Regions from separate parts of the Homo sapiens genome. Here region 2 is linked to region 1. The links come from fine-mapping of genetic effects on gene expression. Tissue or cell type: whole blood. Region 1 holds a variant in brackets; the other region holds the start of a gene. All regions are shown on one strand. Distances are from middle to middle.

Region 1 (8,105 bases):
TTTTTCATGATTAGTGTTTGCTTCATATATATTTTTTCTATTCTTTTACTCTTAACCTACCTATGCAGTATATTTAGAGCTTATTCAGGTAGATTTTTATACAATCTGACATTTCTGCCTTTTAATTGGAGAGTTTGGGCCACTTTTATTTAATGTAACTATAAATATGGTTGTATTTAAATACACCATTTTGCTATTTGTTTTCTATTTGTCCCTACTATTCTTTGTCCCTTTTTCCTTTTTTTTGACTTCCTTTTTAATTCATAAAATACTTTAATGATTTCATTTTATCCCTACTTTTGGCTTATTAGCTCTATCTATATTTTACTTTTGAATGATTGCTCTAGAGTTTACCATATACATCTTTAAATTATCACAGTCTAACTCCAAATAATGGTATCAAACTTCACATAGGCCAGGTGTAGTGGCTCACACCTGTAATTCCACACTTTGGGAGGCCGAGGCAGGCGGATCACTTGAGGTCAGGATTTTGAGACTAGCCTGGTCAACATGGCGAAACCCAATCTCTACTAAAAATACAAAAACTAGCTGGGCGTGGTGGTGCACACCTGTAATCCCAGCTCCTTGGGAGGCTGAGACACGAGAATCACTTGAACCCAGGAGGTGGAAGTTGCAGTGAGCCGAGATTGTGCCACTGCGTTCCAGCCTGGGCGACAGAGTGAGACTCTGTCTCAGAAAAAAAAAAAAAAAAGAAATAAACAAACAAAAAGAAAACTTCACGTAGTTAACAAGAACCATGAAGGTTCTGAGGTAATACTGTACTTGCAAGCATACAAATTAGCCTGCCACAATTTGATGCTAGTAGAAGACTCAAGATTTTTTTGTCTGCCTCTATTGATGGTATAAAAAGTAAAGAAAAAAAAAAGAAAGACTCTGAACTTGTGCATCCTGGGTCAAAGACAAAGAACCTTATAACTCATACCACAGTAGTCAGTGGATGCTATGCATACAGTGAATTTGCATTCCAGCCAATGAACCCTGGGCTTAGGAAACCCCAATCTTTTATAAGGGCCTGCAAACATATCTGCTCAACCTTTGCCCTTGAGGGACAAATGCAAGTGGCTTTATTATTTTCCTCGGAATGTTGTTCTTCCTAGTGTTTTTACATTTCTCAACCAATTCCTCTGCTTTGAATGTTGTGTGTATGTGCAAACGCATAATCTCAGCGGACAAAACTGAAGTGTAATACCTCTGGTGGGCTAAGGTCACATTTCTCAGGCTCCTTGTGAAGAATTTAGGACACAGCTGATAGATGCCAGCCACACCAAACTGGCCTCTGTGGTAGGCCTGAGACCATTTGCTTCATTTTTCTCAGTTCAGCTGTTTGTTGCTGTAAGGCCTTGGCCACACTGTGAATATTCCCTAGACCTTGATTTTCCTGGAAGTCAGCTGGGCATAATAAATAATGCCTGTATTTTCTCAGCATCTTTTTATCACTTGAAATTTTTAAGAAGTTTTTGTACTTATTGAAGGGCTCTTTTAGACTTATTTAGACAGATTTTCTTTTATCCTATGTCTCTCTTGTGTGCACATAAAAAACAAATATAGGCAAAATAAATTGGTTATGACACTCCTAAGACTTCTCCACAATTAGATTCTGGCTCTTCTGCATCACCATGGCTCAGCATCATTGATGTCTGTGTTTTTTGATACAAGATTGTACTCAGTGTTAGCAAGAGGTTGAAGAGGCAGCATTTCATTTGTTTTTTTTTTTTTTTTAAGACTGAATCTCGCTCTGTTGCCCAGGCTGGAGCACAGTGGCGAGATTTGGCTTCCTGCAACCTCTGCCTCCCAGGTTCAAGCGATTCTCCCCCCTCAGCCTCCCGAGTAGCTGGGATTATAGGCGTGTGCCACTACACCTGGCTAATTTTTTTTTTTTGTATTTTTAGTGGAGATGGGGGTTTCACCATGTTGGCCAGGCTGGTCTTGAACTCCTGACCTCAAGTGATCTGCTCACTTCAACCTCCCAAAGTGCTGGGATTGCAGACTTGAGCCACTGTGCCCGGCCAGCATTTCTTAATAGGATGCTTCATTTTTGCTTTTGGAATTTTCTTCCTAACCAGTAACACTGATTTTGCAAGTGCAAGCAATAGAAGTATCTCAGGACTGCTGCATGGTTGAATGATTCGAAGATGTTAAAGTGGGAAAAATCAGGGCTTTTGAATTGGAAAATATAGTATGGAATGTATTTTTCCTCATGTGGTGTGATGATCAATAAATAACCTGCCTTCTGTTTCTTCACAGCCCTTTGTGATATAGGTCCTTTTTATCATCTCTTTATTTTTTGGGTTTGAAACTAAATCTCAGAAAGCTAAAGAAACCTGTGCAAGCTGCTGGAGGAAGGGTTAGTACCCAGCTGTGTCTGACTCAAAGCCATCCCCTTTCTATTTCCCTTCCTATGCCTCCATTCTGACTTTTTTTTTTTTTTTTTTTGTGCTGGAGTTTCGCTCTTGTTGCCCAGGCTGGAGTGCAATGTGCAATGGCGCAATCTCGGGCAGCTCTATGGGTCAATAAACTCTGTTGACAGGGGAACTTGGGGGTCCTGCTGTCTGACACCAGGAATTAAAGTGGAGAGTAAAAATTCTGGAGAATTTAATTTTGAAAATATTCTTTTTCTTTTTCTTTTCTTTTCTTTTTTTTTTTTTTGAGACAGAGTCTCGCTCTGTCGCCCAGGCTGGAGTGCAGTGGCATGATCTCGACTCACTGCAACCTGTACCTCCCAGGTTCAACCTGTACCTAGGGAAGCTAGGCTGGGTTTTCTGTTTAGGGGTCTCATAAGGCTGAAACCAAAGTGTCAGCAGGACTAGGCTTTTATCTGGAGGTTCTAGGGGAGAATCTACTTCCAAGCTCACTCGGGTTGGTAGAACTCAGTTTCTTGTGGTTGTAGGACTGAGGATCCTGTTTCCTCCCTGGTGGTCAGCTGGGGGTATCTTTACTCCTAGAGGCTGCCTTCATTCTTTCTCACATTTTTCATGTCCCCACCCATCCCAGCAATAGTGAGTTGAGTACCCCTCATGCTCTGAATCTCTGGTTTCCTCCTCCTCCACCTCCTTTTTCTTCTTCTTCTTTTTTTTTTTTTTTTTTGTTGAGATGGAGTCTCACTCTGTTACCCAGGCTGGAGTGCAGTGGCACTATATTAGCTCACTGCAATCTCTGCCTCCTGGGTTCAGGCGATTCTCCTGCCTCAACTCAGCCTCCTGAGTAGCTGAAACTACAGGCATGTGCCACTACGCCTGGCTAATTTTTGTATTTTTGGTAGAGACGGGGTTTTGCCATGTTGGGCAGGCTGGTCTCGAACTCCTGGCCTCAAGTGATCCACCTACCTTGGCCTCCCAAAGTGCTGGGATTGTAGGTGTAAGCCACCTCACCCACCCACTGACTTGAGTCTCTGATTCCAGCTACACAAAGTTCTCTGCTTTTAAGGGCTCATGTGATCTGATTGACCCCAGATTGACCCCACCTGAGCAAAGCAGG[A/G]CATGGCTCTATTTTAAGGTTCAAAACCTCAATTATATCCACAAAGACCCTTTTTGCCGTGTAACAGATAAATTCACAGGTTTCAGGGATAAGTGCATGGGCATTGTTGGGGGCCTGCCACACCCCCCCCCCCAGCTAGTTTGTAATCTCCATGAGGAGTTGGGGTGCCAGCACAGCCCTGGCACTGTGGGTGCCTAATAAACTCTGTTGCCAGGGGAACGTGAGGGTCCTGCTGTCTGACACCAGGAATTAAAGTGGAGAGTAAAAATTCTGGAGAATTTCATTTTGAAAATTTTCTTTTTCTTTTCTTTTTTTTTTTTTTGAGACAGAGTCTCGCTCTGTCGCCCAGGCTGGAGTGCAGTGGCATGATCTCGACTCACTGCAACCTGTACCTCCCAGGTTCAAGCGATTCTCCTGCCTCAGCCTCCCAAGTAGCTGAGATTACAGGTGACCACCACCACACCTGGCTAATTTTTGTATTTTTAGTAGAGGTGGGGTTTTACCATGTTGGCCAAGCTGGTCTCAAACTCCTGACCTCAGGTGATCTGCCCACATTGGACTCCCAAAGTGCTGGGATTATAAGCGTGAACCACTGTGCCCGGCCCTGAAAATATTCTTTACTCAGAAATTGATAGAGGAAAGTATGTTACCCCCTTGTGGGAGGTAAATGCCTTCAAGTCTTCGGCTCTTGCAGGTGGTAGTCCTCAGAGCGTGGTTCTCTTGGGTGTGAGGAAGGCTTTGGGTGCTGTGTGCTGGTGTTGGGGAAGAGGGGCAAGATGGCACATCAGCCTGGGCAGAATGAGTGTGCTCAGGTCCAGGAAGCTGGGTTGACAGATGCAGGCTTTTCTCAGGTGGGCTTTCAGCCAGTGCTTTGGGAAATCTTAGAGACAGAGGCTATGTGGCTGAAAATAAATCCACACACATCTGGTCAGGTCTACTTTGTGCGGGGGTCTACTACATTCAGGACCTCACCAAACCTCAGAGAAACCCCTCTAGGTGGGCTATAGCGGCTTCATTTTACAGACGAGGAAACTCAGGCTCAGAAGTTGAATGATATGTTCAAAGTTACACACTGAGGCACAGAGGCAGGACCGGAGCTTGTTCTTCGGTCTCGTAGTTCAATGCTCTTTCTGTTTTTGTAGTTGCCTCCTGGGTTGGAGGTAGGAAGACGTGGTTTGTCCCTAATGTATTAGGTGACAGTGGAAGCTCCTCTACTTGTTATTCAAGTCCTAGCCTACCTCTTTCCTCAGTCTATATTAATCTCTTGTTTCTTCTGAATTCCTACGACATTCATTTATTCATTCATTCTGAACTCAGTACATACTTACTGAGTGCCTATGACCTACTAGGCACTGTGCCAGATGCTGGATACAATGGAGAACAGGACAGACATGGTCCATCTCTCAATGGCTTACAGAGCTGCCTTCACTGTTGGGGAATACAGATGATTATATCAGTAACAATGGTGAAGTGTGATGAATGTTGGGATGGGGAAATCGAGGATGCTATGGGATTACTGAGGTGTAGGTTCTGACCTATTCTAGTGATGTAAAGGATGTTTCTTGGGAGGTGGCACTGAACCTGAGACCTGAAAGATAAGATGAAATTTGCCAGACCAAGAGAGTAGGCAGGTGATCCATGCAGAAGGAATGTGCTATACGAAGACCAGGAGGCAAGACAGTCCCTGGACACAGCTCAGGAAATCAGAAAAGCAAACGAAAACAAAAAGTAGGTCTGTCTGGGATGTTTTTTGACATCAACCAATTCCCCGACACCAGCTGGGTACCTAGCAATTCAATTCAATTCTGACACTAACTACCCAGAGTTAGTGTGGACCCCACAGCTTAAGGGCTCAGTTGCATAAGACTGCCCCCACTTCAGACGCCAGTCCCAAATCTCAGACCACCTGTACTTCTGACCAACTGGCTGTAAATCAGGGCTTCCCATGAACCCCTCCTCAGGTTTGTTAATTTGCTAGAATGGCTTGCAGAACTCAGAAAGGCACTTTACTTATAGTTTTAAGTAAGTGTTTGTTATAAAGGATATCCTAAAGCATACAAATGAACAGCCAGATGAGAAGGTACATAGGCCAGGTCTGCAAGGGTCCTGAGTGCGGGAGCTTCTGGCCCTGGGTAGTTGGGGTGCATTCACCAACTCAGAAGCTCTCAGAAACTTTCTGTTCAAAAGTTATATAGAGGCCGGGCGAGGCGGTTCACACCTGTAATCCTAGCACTTTGGGAGGCCGAGGCAGGCAGATCACTTGAGGTCAGTAGTTCAAGACCAGCCTGGCCAACATGGCAAAACCTTGTGTCTACTAAAAATATAAAAATTAGCCAGGCATGATGGCGGACGCCCATAATCCCAGCTACTTGGGAGGCTGAGGCATCAGAAACTCTTGAGCCCAGGAGGTGGATGTTGCAGTGAGCTGAGATCGTGCCACTGTACTCCAGCCTGGGTGACACAGCGAGACTTCATCTCAAAAAAATAAAAAGGTGTATAGGGCAGTGGCTCATGCTTGTAATCCCAGCACTTTATGAGGCCAAGGTGGGAGGTTCACTTGAGGCAAGGAGTTCAAGACCAACCTGGGCATCACAGTGAGACCCTGTCTCTATAAAAAAATAAAAGTAGGCTGGGCGCAGTGGCTCATGCCTGTAATCCCAGCACTTTGGGAGGCTGAATTGGGTGGATTACCTAAGGTAGGGAGTTTGAGACCAGCCTGACCAACATGGAGAAAAATACAAAAAATTAGCCGGGCATGGTGGCGGATGCCTGTAATCCCAGCTACTTGGGAGGTGGAGGCAGGAGAATCACTTGAATCCCAGAGGTGGAGGTTGTGGTGAGCTAAGATCATGCCATTGCACTCCAGCCTGGGCAACAAGAGTGAAACTCCATCACAAAAATAAATAAATAAATAAATAAATACATAAATACATAAATAAAAGTAAAAATATTAGCCGAGTGTGGTGGCATATAACTGTAGTTCCAGGTACTCAGGAGGCTGAGGTGGGAGGATCTCTTGAGTCCCAGAGTTCAATGAGGCTAAGAGTGAGCTATGATCATGCCACTGCACTACAGCCTGGGTGACAGAGTGAGACCCTGTCTCTAAAAAAAATTAAGGCTGGGTGTGGTGGCTCACACCTGTAATCTCAGCACTTTGGGAGGCCCAGGTGTGCAGTTCACTTAAAGTTAGGCATTCAAGACTAGCCTGGCTAGCATAGTGAAACCCTGTCTCTAGTAAAAATTCAAAAATTAGCCGGGTGTGGTGGTGTGTGCCTGTAATCCCAGCTATTACAGAAGCTGATGTGGGAGAATTGCTTGAACCCAGGAGGCGGAGGTTGCAGTGAACCAAGATCACACCACTGCACTCCAGCCTGGGCAACAGAGTGAGACTCTGTCTCAAAAAAAATAGATAAATAAAATAAAAATAGTAACAAAAGTTTTATATAGCTCTATCTCCAGTCCCCCCTCCCCAACTTTGAGGTCAATGGGTGGGGCTGAAAGTTTCCACCCTCTTTTTTTTTTCTTGTATGTTATTCCAATGAAAAGTTTCCATCCTCTTTTACAGGGTCATACTCTGTTGCCAGGCTGGACGATCACAGCTCACTGCAGCCTTGACCTCCTGGGCTCAAGCGATCTTCTTATCTCTCAGCCTCCCAAATAGCTAGGACTACAGGTGTGCACCAGCACGCCCGATTAATTTTTGTATTCTTTTTTTTTTGAGACGAGTCTCCCCCCGTCACCCAGGCTGGAGTGCAGTGGCATGATCTCGGCACACTGCAAGCTCCACTTTCCGGGTTCATGCCATTCTCCTGCCTCAGCCTCCTGAGTAGCTGGGACTACAGGCGCCCGCCACCTTGCCTGGCTAATTTTTTGTATTTTTAGTAGAGACGGGGTTTTACCATGTTAGCCAGGATGGTCTCGAACTCCTGACCTCGTGATCTGCCTGCCTCGGCCTCCCAAAGTGCTGGGATTACAGGTGTGAGCCACCACACGCAGCCTAATTTTTGTATTCTTCTGCAGAGATGGGTTTTTGCCATGTTGCACAGACTTGTCTCAAACCCCTGGGCTCAAGTGATCTGTCCACCTCAGCCTCCCAAAGTGTTAGGATTACAGGTGTGAGCCACTGCACCTAGCCAAGTTTCCATCCTCTTATTACTTGGTCTTTCTGGTGCCAGTCCCATCCTGAGATGCTACCGTAACTCACCTCATTAGCATAAACTCAAGTATGATGGAAAGGGGCTCCTAATAAATTACAAAAGATATTCCTATCTTTCAGGAAATTCCCAGCATTTTAGGAGCTCTGTGCCGAGAACCAGAAACAAAGGCCAAGTATTTATTTTATTATTACCACAGTCTATAAGGAGCAGAGAGTTTCAGGCAGCAAATGGCAAGAGATGAGGTCTCAGAGATTAGAGGACCACGCCAAAAAAGAAAGAAGTTAAAAAATTTCCAAAAAAAAAAAAAATTTCTACTTTCCATTAGGGTAATGGGGAACCACCAAGGATTTAAGTAGGGGAGTGACTGTGATTTGATTTGCATATCATAATGATCACTTTTGTGTCTTTGTGATGAAAGGGGCTGGGTGCAGTGGCTCATGTCTGTAATCCCAA
Region 2 (8,089 bases), 81 kb before region 1:
CTATAGCTCCTCATTCCATTATTTGTCTTTAAGGCATTTATTTTTTTCCTTCACAGCCATATTTTAATACTAAAAGTAAGAGCTTACAGCTCTGGTTTTCTTCCTGATGAATGGTAAACAAACTTCCCTCATTGCTACTTCAAAACTGTCTTTAATAAATATATTTAAGAAACCGATTCACAAAATTTCTAGAGACTTCCAAACAAGTGTGCAAGTGATTTTTTTTTTTTTTTTTTTGAGATGGAGTTTCACTCTTGTTGCCCAGGCTGGAGTGCAATGGTGCGATTTTGGCACATGGCAACCTCTGCCTCCCGGGTTCAAGTAAGTCTCCCGCCTCTGCCTCCCGAGTAGCTGGGATTATAGGCACGTGCCACGAAGCCCGGCTTTTTTTTTTTTTTTTTTTTTTTGTATTTTTAGTAGAGATGGCATTTCACCATGTTGGCCAGGCTGGTCTCGAACTCCTGACTTCAGGTGATCCACCCGCCTTGGCCTCCCAAAGTGCTGGGATTACAGGCGTGAGCCACCATACCTGGCTTTTTTTTTTTTTTTTTTTTGAGACGGAGTCTCGTTCTGTCGCCCAGGCTGGAGTGCAATGGAGTGATCTCTGCTCACTGCAAGCTCCGCCTTCCGGGTTCACGCCATTCTCCTGCCTCAGCCTCCCGAGTAGCTGGGACTACAGGCGTGCGCCACCTCACCCGGCTAATTTTTTGTATTTTTAATAGAGACGGGGTTTCACCGTGTTAGCCAGGATGGTCTCCATCTCCTGACCACGTGATCCGCCCACCTCGGCCTCCCAAAGTGCTGGGATTACAGGCATGAGCCACCGCGCCCGGCCTTTTTTTTTTTTTTTTTAATGAGACAGTATCTGGCTATGTTGCCCAGGCTGGAGTGCCGAGGCGTGATCTCTACTCACTGCAATCTCCACCTCCCGGGCTCAAGGGATCCTCCCACCTCAGCCTCTATTGTAGCTGGGACCACAGGTGCACGCCACCATGCCAGGCTAATTTTTTTTTTTTTTTTTCATTTTTGGTAAAGATGGGGTTTCACCATGTTGCCCAGGCTGGTCTCGAACTCCTGAGCTCAAGCTATCTGCCTGCAGCTTCCCAAAGTGTTGGGATTACAGGCGTGAGCCACTGCACCTGAGCCTTTTTTTCCTTTTTAAAAGAAACCAACCATCTTTAAGCGGTTTTTAAGATTTTTACTGTTTTTTGTTTTTAGAGAAACAGGTCTTGCTATGTTGTCCGAGCTGTTCTTGAACTCTTGGGCTCAAGTGATCCTTTCACTTCAGCCTCCCAAGTAGCTGGGCCTACAGGGGAACATCACCATGCCTGGCTTATTAATTTCACTTTAAAAGTCACATATATGACAGTTTTCATCCAACAGGGCTTTTTCTCCCTGACCAATCCATTAATAAGGTAACTATCCAATCATTAAAAAAAAATTCTTTTTCTAAATTATCCAATACTTTATTAAGCAAAATAAAATAATATTTAACTTTTTAGATCCCAGGCTTCAACATTATTTGCTATTCAATGAAAATAAATAAAATGTAGTGGTTTTCACATTTGTTACCACAGATTTCAAAATAATAATCTACATTCCTAAAAACTATTTACATATACAAACAAAAAAGAACATAATTAAGCTGGAGTTTTTCCATGTCATTGTCTTTGGGGTCCAAGCAGCAGAACCATGATGTAGGTAAGAGAGTACTACGGCCGATTGCCAGTGATGTGATTCAAGCTCAAGAACAAAAAGTTGAGCTGTGGGTATATTAGCTTGACTCATAAAAAGGATGCTAACCAAAGGGTCTCCATCTTTAGAGACCAAACAAGGGCAAATGTGCTATTGGTGCAAAAGTAATTGTGGTTTTGCCTTTTTTAAAAAAAATGGTAATTACTTTTGCACCAACCTAATAAAATGGCAATAGTAACGATATGGTTATTTGTAAAACAGTACTCTCCTACACATTTCAAAAGAGCCTAAGGACACTCATTGTTCATGTCTTTGAGAACAAAATAGGCTGCTCATTTATTTGGAATGGTTCTTGATGGAGGATATTCTGGAAGGCGGGAAGATCTTTCCTTCCTGGGCCATCTATCTCTCTAGGGGGTTAAACTTTGAATTGTATCTCATTTATTCTTCTCAGTGTGACTCAAACCTAGTTTCAGAGGTTAGAGACTCTACATCTTTCAAACACAATTCCTGTTGTAGAATTACTCAGTAGATAGGAACTCTTACCTGTTCCCAACTCCGTTTCAAAATTCAGCCAAGATTCCTTGATATGGGATTTCTTTCTATATTTTCTGAAATGCAGTGCCACTTAGAACACTTATTTACTATTATAATATACAATAAAATGTAATTTAAAAAACAACTTTGTAAAATAAGATATTTGTAAGAGCAGTGGTTTTTTTTATATTTGGTCATGTTGTGTGGGGCAAATACAGCTCAGCTTTGGCTTTACTATATTCCTTTTTTAATAATAAAAAAGCAAAATCATATGAAAATTTTCTTACATATAGATCTATTTGTAAAAGCAAAAGAAAATTTATTTCAAGTGTGTAAGGAAAGCGGAAATTACTCAATTGGTTATACATATACTTTTGGATATTTCAATTTCTGTAACGACTGACATCCAGTGAAGCCTTCTTTCAATTTTCTAACATTAATACAAAAGTCATCAAAATGTATAAATGTAAGATGCTTCTAAAAACAACTGTCACATTTAACGTTTTGATTTAGTAATCAGGCCATGATTTTTTCGATTCTAATTTGTTTCTGTACTTTCTCTTTAATGGGGGAGGGGGTGGGCTTCTAAGTCTTCCTCTTGAGTCTTTGTACAATAAAGTGAGCTATTTGCTTCTATTTAGCAAAGCTGGATGGGGCATATCTCTGCATTTGATTGGTTGGTTTTTAAGGGATTACTCCTCTGGAAAGACACTGTCTCATATTGCATTGCTAGCAGCGTGGTCTTAACTGTGGTTAAACTTTTAAATTGAAAATGAACATTTACCATCAAAGAGAACACAAACTTCAGGACTCCTATGTTACACAGATCATACACACCATATTGACCTGTTTTGATAAGAGTTCTGTTTGAATACAATCCTAAACACCATATCCAGAAATAACAACTGTCTCAATGGCATAAATAGGAAATTTGGGGTTCCTCATGTATTACAAAGAAGCCAATAAAACTTAGAATAAATTCCAACTATACAAATAGGCTTCAATAAGATTAACAAAATCTGAGGATGACAGGCAAGTCAACAAGTTAAATAAATTATACTATTTATACCCAGATAAAATAAAACAATGACTTCTAACTTTTATGGTGCATTTCCCACCTAATCAGAGTAAACATCAGACTTCAAATTCCATTTATCATTTTATCTGAAAGAATTTACTGAGTAAAATCCTTAGTTGCAGGGCTTTACACTTGCAATCCATCAGGTTGCAATATTAAAGTTACTACAGCTTCTTCCCCAGTGTAAGCATTCTGTATGTGTTTTATTTACATTGTCACTTTTTATTTCCTCCTCAACTTCGTATGTCTAAGAATGAAACTGGATTGCTATTATGCAACAGTATTTTAACTTTGCAACATACATACTGGCTTATCTCTCCTTTGAACTCCTGTTCCTGAAAAATAAACATATGTATCCAGAAAAACTACCTTGAGGCGTGTGGGGAAGAGTGCAGACATGTAGAAACAAACACTAAAATACAGTCGTGTGGAAAGGTAAGGATGTATCTGTCCTCGTTGACAACAATCCCCGTGGTTTATTAACAGCCACAGGCAGCCAACTTAGTGCCGTAAGTCGGTAACCCAGTGGGCATCGGGGCTTTAAGGTCTCTTAAAACTTAATGTGATTCAAAAATACCCAAGGCAACCACGCCGAAAAACCAGGAGAAAGGGCTCCAGTTAGAGCCTCCTTGGCAACCCAAACCGAACCGAATGACTCAGGTGGACGATTAGAATAAACCGTGCGCCGTTCTCTTTCACTAGGTCTATAAAGCCCAGAAATTATGTTTGGTCCAGAAAACCAGGAGTTATGAGCACCTTCCTTTTCCACCTTTTAATATTCTACATATCTAGCAACGGTTCTTAATCCATGGTCTTCATTCATTTATTGCCTAAACAAGATCTTGGGTGTCTCTTGGTGATCACTTCTTCCAAGCTGACCTAATATGACAGCAAAGTGAAAAGCCTCTTCGTGGGAAGGGTCGCGACCGCGCGGTAAGTCATCCAAAAGTGGAAGCATCTTGCTTTTACTGACTTATGTATACGAGGGTGGCGATGGTGGCGGCCTGACAGGGACGAGGCCGGAGGGGAAGGGGCGCGCGGGCTGCTGGGCAGCCGCGGTGGGGGTGACGGGGGCAGCCACGCTCCCCAGCGCGAGCCGCCGGACCCGGGACCCGACGAGCCCCTCCCGGCATTGCACCCTGACCCCTCTCCTCCTTCCAGGCCTTTCATCTGCCCTCCCGCTGGGCAGCCCGCGGTCCCCGGACCTCAAGCCGCCCGCCTCCTTCCGCAACCCCGTCGCGCCGCCCCGCGAAGCCCTCGGCCGGGCGGGGACCCCGACCCGACCCCTCCGGCCGCGCCCCTCCCCCTCGCAGAACGCACCTGCGGCCCCGCCCCCGGCCGAACGCTGAGGCGGCGGCTGGCTGGCAAGGCCGGGCGGCTCGGCCCTCGAGGCACAGTCACCTTCCCTTCCCCCGCCATTCCGCCCACCCCCCTCACTCAGCCACAGAGCAGCCGCCGCGCTCCTCAGCCGCCCCGAAATCTAAAGGGGTCCGTCTCCGGCACCACTACCAAATGGCCGAGCCTCCCTGGCCGGCTGCGCAGCCCGCCCATTGGTCCCTTCCCCCCCCCGCCGCCACTGCCATTGGCTGTTGCCCGGAGACCCTCGGCGGCGATTGGCTCGGGCCGCTGCCGCTCGTCCATGGGGCCGCAGATCCCGCCTCCACGGCGATCAGGTTAGTGTGCGCCGCGGGTGCTGGGGGCTCGAGAACCGAGCGGAGCTGGTTGAGCCTTCAAAGTCCTAAAACGCGCGGCCGTGGGTTCGGGGTTTATTGATTGAATTCCGCCGGCGCGGGAGCCTCTGCAGAGAGAGAGCGCGAGAGATGGAGATGGGCAGACGGATTCATTTAGAGCTGCGGAACAGGACGCCCTCTGATGTGAGCATTTGCCAAAAATATCTCTGTCGGTCCATTCTCCTACTTTGTGTGTGTGTGTGTGTGTGCGCGCTGGGGGGAGGCACTTTTTTTGGGGGGGGGCGCCCGGGAGGTGCGGGTTTGGGGGTCGGACTGCAAGCGAATTGGCAAGGCTGGGGGGTTGCAATGCCATCCGAGCATGTTCCGGCTGCCGCCGCCGCTGCCCTTGGTGTGTGACTACCTGTGCGTGTGCTCCCGCGTGTGCGAGTGTGGGTGCGAGAGTGTGCGTGCGAGTGTGCACCCATCGGGGGCCGGCGGGCGCACGCGTTTGGGTCGGAGAGAATGAGGCGAAATCACCCTCGGAGATCGCTGCTCCCGTGACTCCGTCTGGGGGGAAGATTAACGAGGGAGGAGGAGGAGAGGGGCTGCCTCCTGGATTTAACAACAAAAAAAGGGGGTTTTACATTTTATAAATGTATCCCCCCTTCCGCCCCCCTCCCGCGCCTCCCCCCTCCCTTTCTCTCGCTCGCTCGCTCGCACACACAATAAGTTTGGGGCTTCGCGAGTCCGGTTTAGTTTCTGATAAATGTGGGCCGAGGCCCCCGGGGAGAGCGCGTGGGGAGGGGGCTGCAGCGGAGTTGGGAATGGCTGGAGTTTAAAGTGCGTCTTCATTTCTTTGCAGTGATGAGGCGAGAGACGGGGGAGCCATATTTGTAACTTTGTAGTGTTCGTGAACGCGCCCTTTCTCTCCCTCCCTCCCTTTCTCTGCCTCCCTTCCTCTCCTCCTCTTTCTCCCTCACTCTTTCCACCCCACCTTCGGGCCAGATGCTGATGTTTCTTCCTTTCCTTCCGAAGGGAGGATAAATTAGAAGGAGGGGGAGGGATTTTCGAACGTGCTAAGGCACAGATAATCCCCGCGTCTCCCTGCCTCCAGCGATCGCTGGTGCAAGTTGCCCAAAGGCTACGTCCCGGTGCCCCCTCGCCCCAGCTCCTTCCGGCTTCCCCAAGATGCCAGCCTTTGGGCCCTGGTGCCCCCCAGCTCGAACCCCCGGCCCGTCTTTCTCAGTGCTGGGCTTGTCGGCAGCCATTCGGCGCCTGCTTAATAAATGGGCACGGGAAACTTTGTCAGGACGCGAGCTGCCCGGAGCTGGCGCCCGTGGTGGGTACTGGCTGGGTCCACGTTTATGCGGGCATGGCAAACACGCAGCTCTAGGATGGGAGTTTGCCCGCTAGCCGCCGTTATTGATTGGGCAGCGGCGGGAGCACGGCCGGAGGAAACTTACACGGGTGGGAATCGCGAGGCTCGAGCGAAAGCTTACCCCTGAGGAGGGGGAAGGTGAGGGTGGGTGACTCGAACGCTGGTTTTTATTTCTGCCTCCCTCTCGCTTTCAAACCTGAGTGTTTTCGGCGAGTTGGCGGCTCTGGGGCGGAGACCCTGGCCAGCTCCCCTCTTGGCCCCTTGGGGGGACCGGGGACGCGCTGGCGGGAGGACGCCCCCAGTCTCGGTGGCCCGAGCTCCATGGAGTTGGGAGTTTGGGCAGCACCGTGCGCTGGCCTGTCGCCCCTCTAGCCCGTTAAACCCGAATCCCGGCGAAGGCAGGCCTCGCTTCCTCTTTTCCCTAGTTCCTCCCCCAAACCTGAGTGAGACTTTTGAAAACAAGATCCTTTTTGTCTACCCCCTCCCCGCCTTAACGCAGCTGTGGACTGGAGACGTGCGAGTGCCTTATGGCGCGCAGGGCGGGGAGGGGGCGGCCGCGGGAGAGGAGGGGGCGCCGCCGGTGGAGGCCGGAGTTTCCGCGCACTATTTGCGGGCGGTTTGCCTCTCTCCGGCCGCTTTCGTCCCGGCCGGGACCCGGCGCCTAGCGTTTGGGGGCTGGGTGTGGTGATGGGGGAGGGGGCCGGGGCCGCGGTCTTCCCGCGTACTTTCCGGAAGCCCCCTGCGCGGAGGGGGAAGGGCGCCAAGCGCGGGGCCGGGGTCGCCGCGGGTGGGTGCGGGGGCGCGGCTGGCCTGGCGAACCCGACCGACGCTGCCGGCCCCCCGGGAGCAAGCAGGAAAGCGGGTCGAACCGGCTCTTTAAACTTCCACGAGTGTGTGTGTGTGTTGGGGAGGGGAGCGCACCGCGCCGTACTGGGAGCGATTTCTCACGCTTCGCCCCCTCGCCTCCCAGCCTCGCGGCCCACACGCCTGCCCCCTGCCTGGAGGCGGGGTGGGGCGCGGGTGGCGGAGGAGGGGGCACTTTCTGCACATTTGCGGGGGAGGGGGAGAAAGCTAGCGAAAGAGGGACAAAAGGGTTGGGGGAGGAGGAACTGTATTTTTTTAAACGTTCTTAAGACAAATGGCTCCCGGAGCGCGCCCCCTGCGCCCCTCCCCGCCGCGCTGCCCCTGGGCCCCCCACACACCCACCTTCGGCACCTCTCCCAACTGGGCTCCGGGAGCTGGTGGCCATGCCGCGACGCCGAAATAGGACGAGCAGCCATGTTTCCCGGGGCTCGCGCCGCACGCCCCGCCCCTCCTCCCCGGCGCGGGGCGCAGGGCTCGGAATGCGGGCTCCGGGCTCCATGTGGCGCGGGGCGCTGGCAGGCGGGCGGCGGGGGTGCAGTACGCGCGGGGCCGGCCTTGTGGCTTTCTAGGCTGGTTTTGAGTTCCAGGTGTTTTATTTATTTATTTTTATTTATTTATTTTTTTTAACGGCTAGGCCCACTCGGGGCTGAGCCCGAAGGGCGCCGAGGCGTTACTGGGGGGCAGGAGCCGCCTCCAGGGCCCTGCGCGCCTGTGGCACGACTGCCGGGCGCCGGGCTGCCATTTTGTCACCGTGGCTGTTGTCGCTGTGGGGGGCGGGGGGAGCGGAGTCTTGCGCCATCACCCCGACGGCCTCCCGCGCGGAGGAGGCAGGGGGAGCCGGCTTTGGGGACCCCCAGTTGTGCTATG

The links. PIP is the estimated chance that this variant, and not a neighbour inherited with it, causes the effect.
Region 2: ANP32A starts here. The variant in region 1 is fine-mapped to the expression of ANP32A in whole blood (INTERVAL, PIP 0.98).

What each region holds. Positions count from the first base shown.
Region 1 is chr15:68,736,634-68,744,738 of GRCh38, reverse strand. No RefSeq gene overlaps it. Among named protein-coding and RNA genes, the nearest start is that of MIR4312, 61 kb to the left of the region's middle. The variant A/G (reference allele first, on the strand shown) is at 3,496.
Region 2 is chr15:68,817,793-68,825,881 of GRCh38, reverse strand. It overlaps ANP32A (acidic nuclear phosphoprotein 32 family member A), which reads left to right and starts at 4,987. Exons shown (of 7, transcript NM_006305.4): 1 at 4,987-5,184. The coding sequence starts at 5,131. RefSeq lists enhancers at 1,625-2,425, 5,707-6,288, 6,289-6,870, 8,035-8,089 and silencers at 4,446-4,505, 4,576-4,735, 4,786-5,035, 6,536-6,645, 6,906-7,145 and 2 more.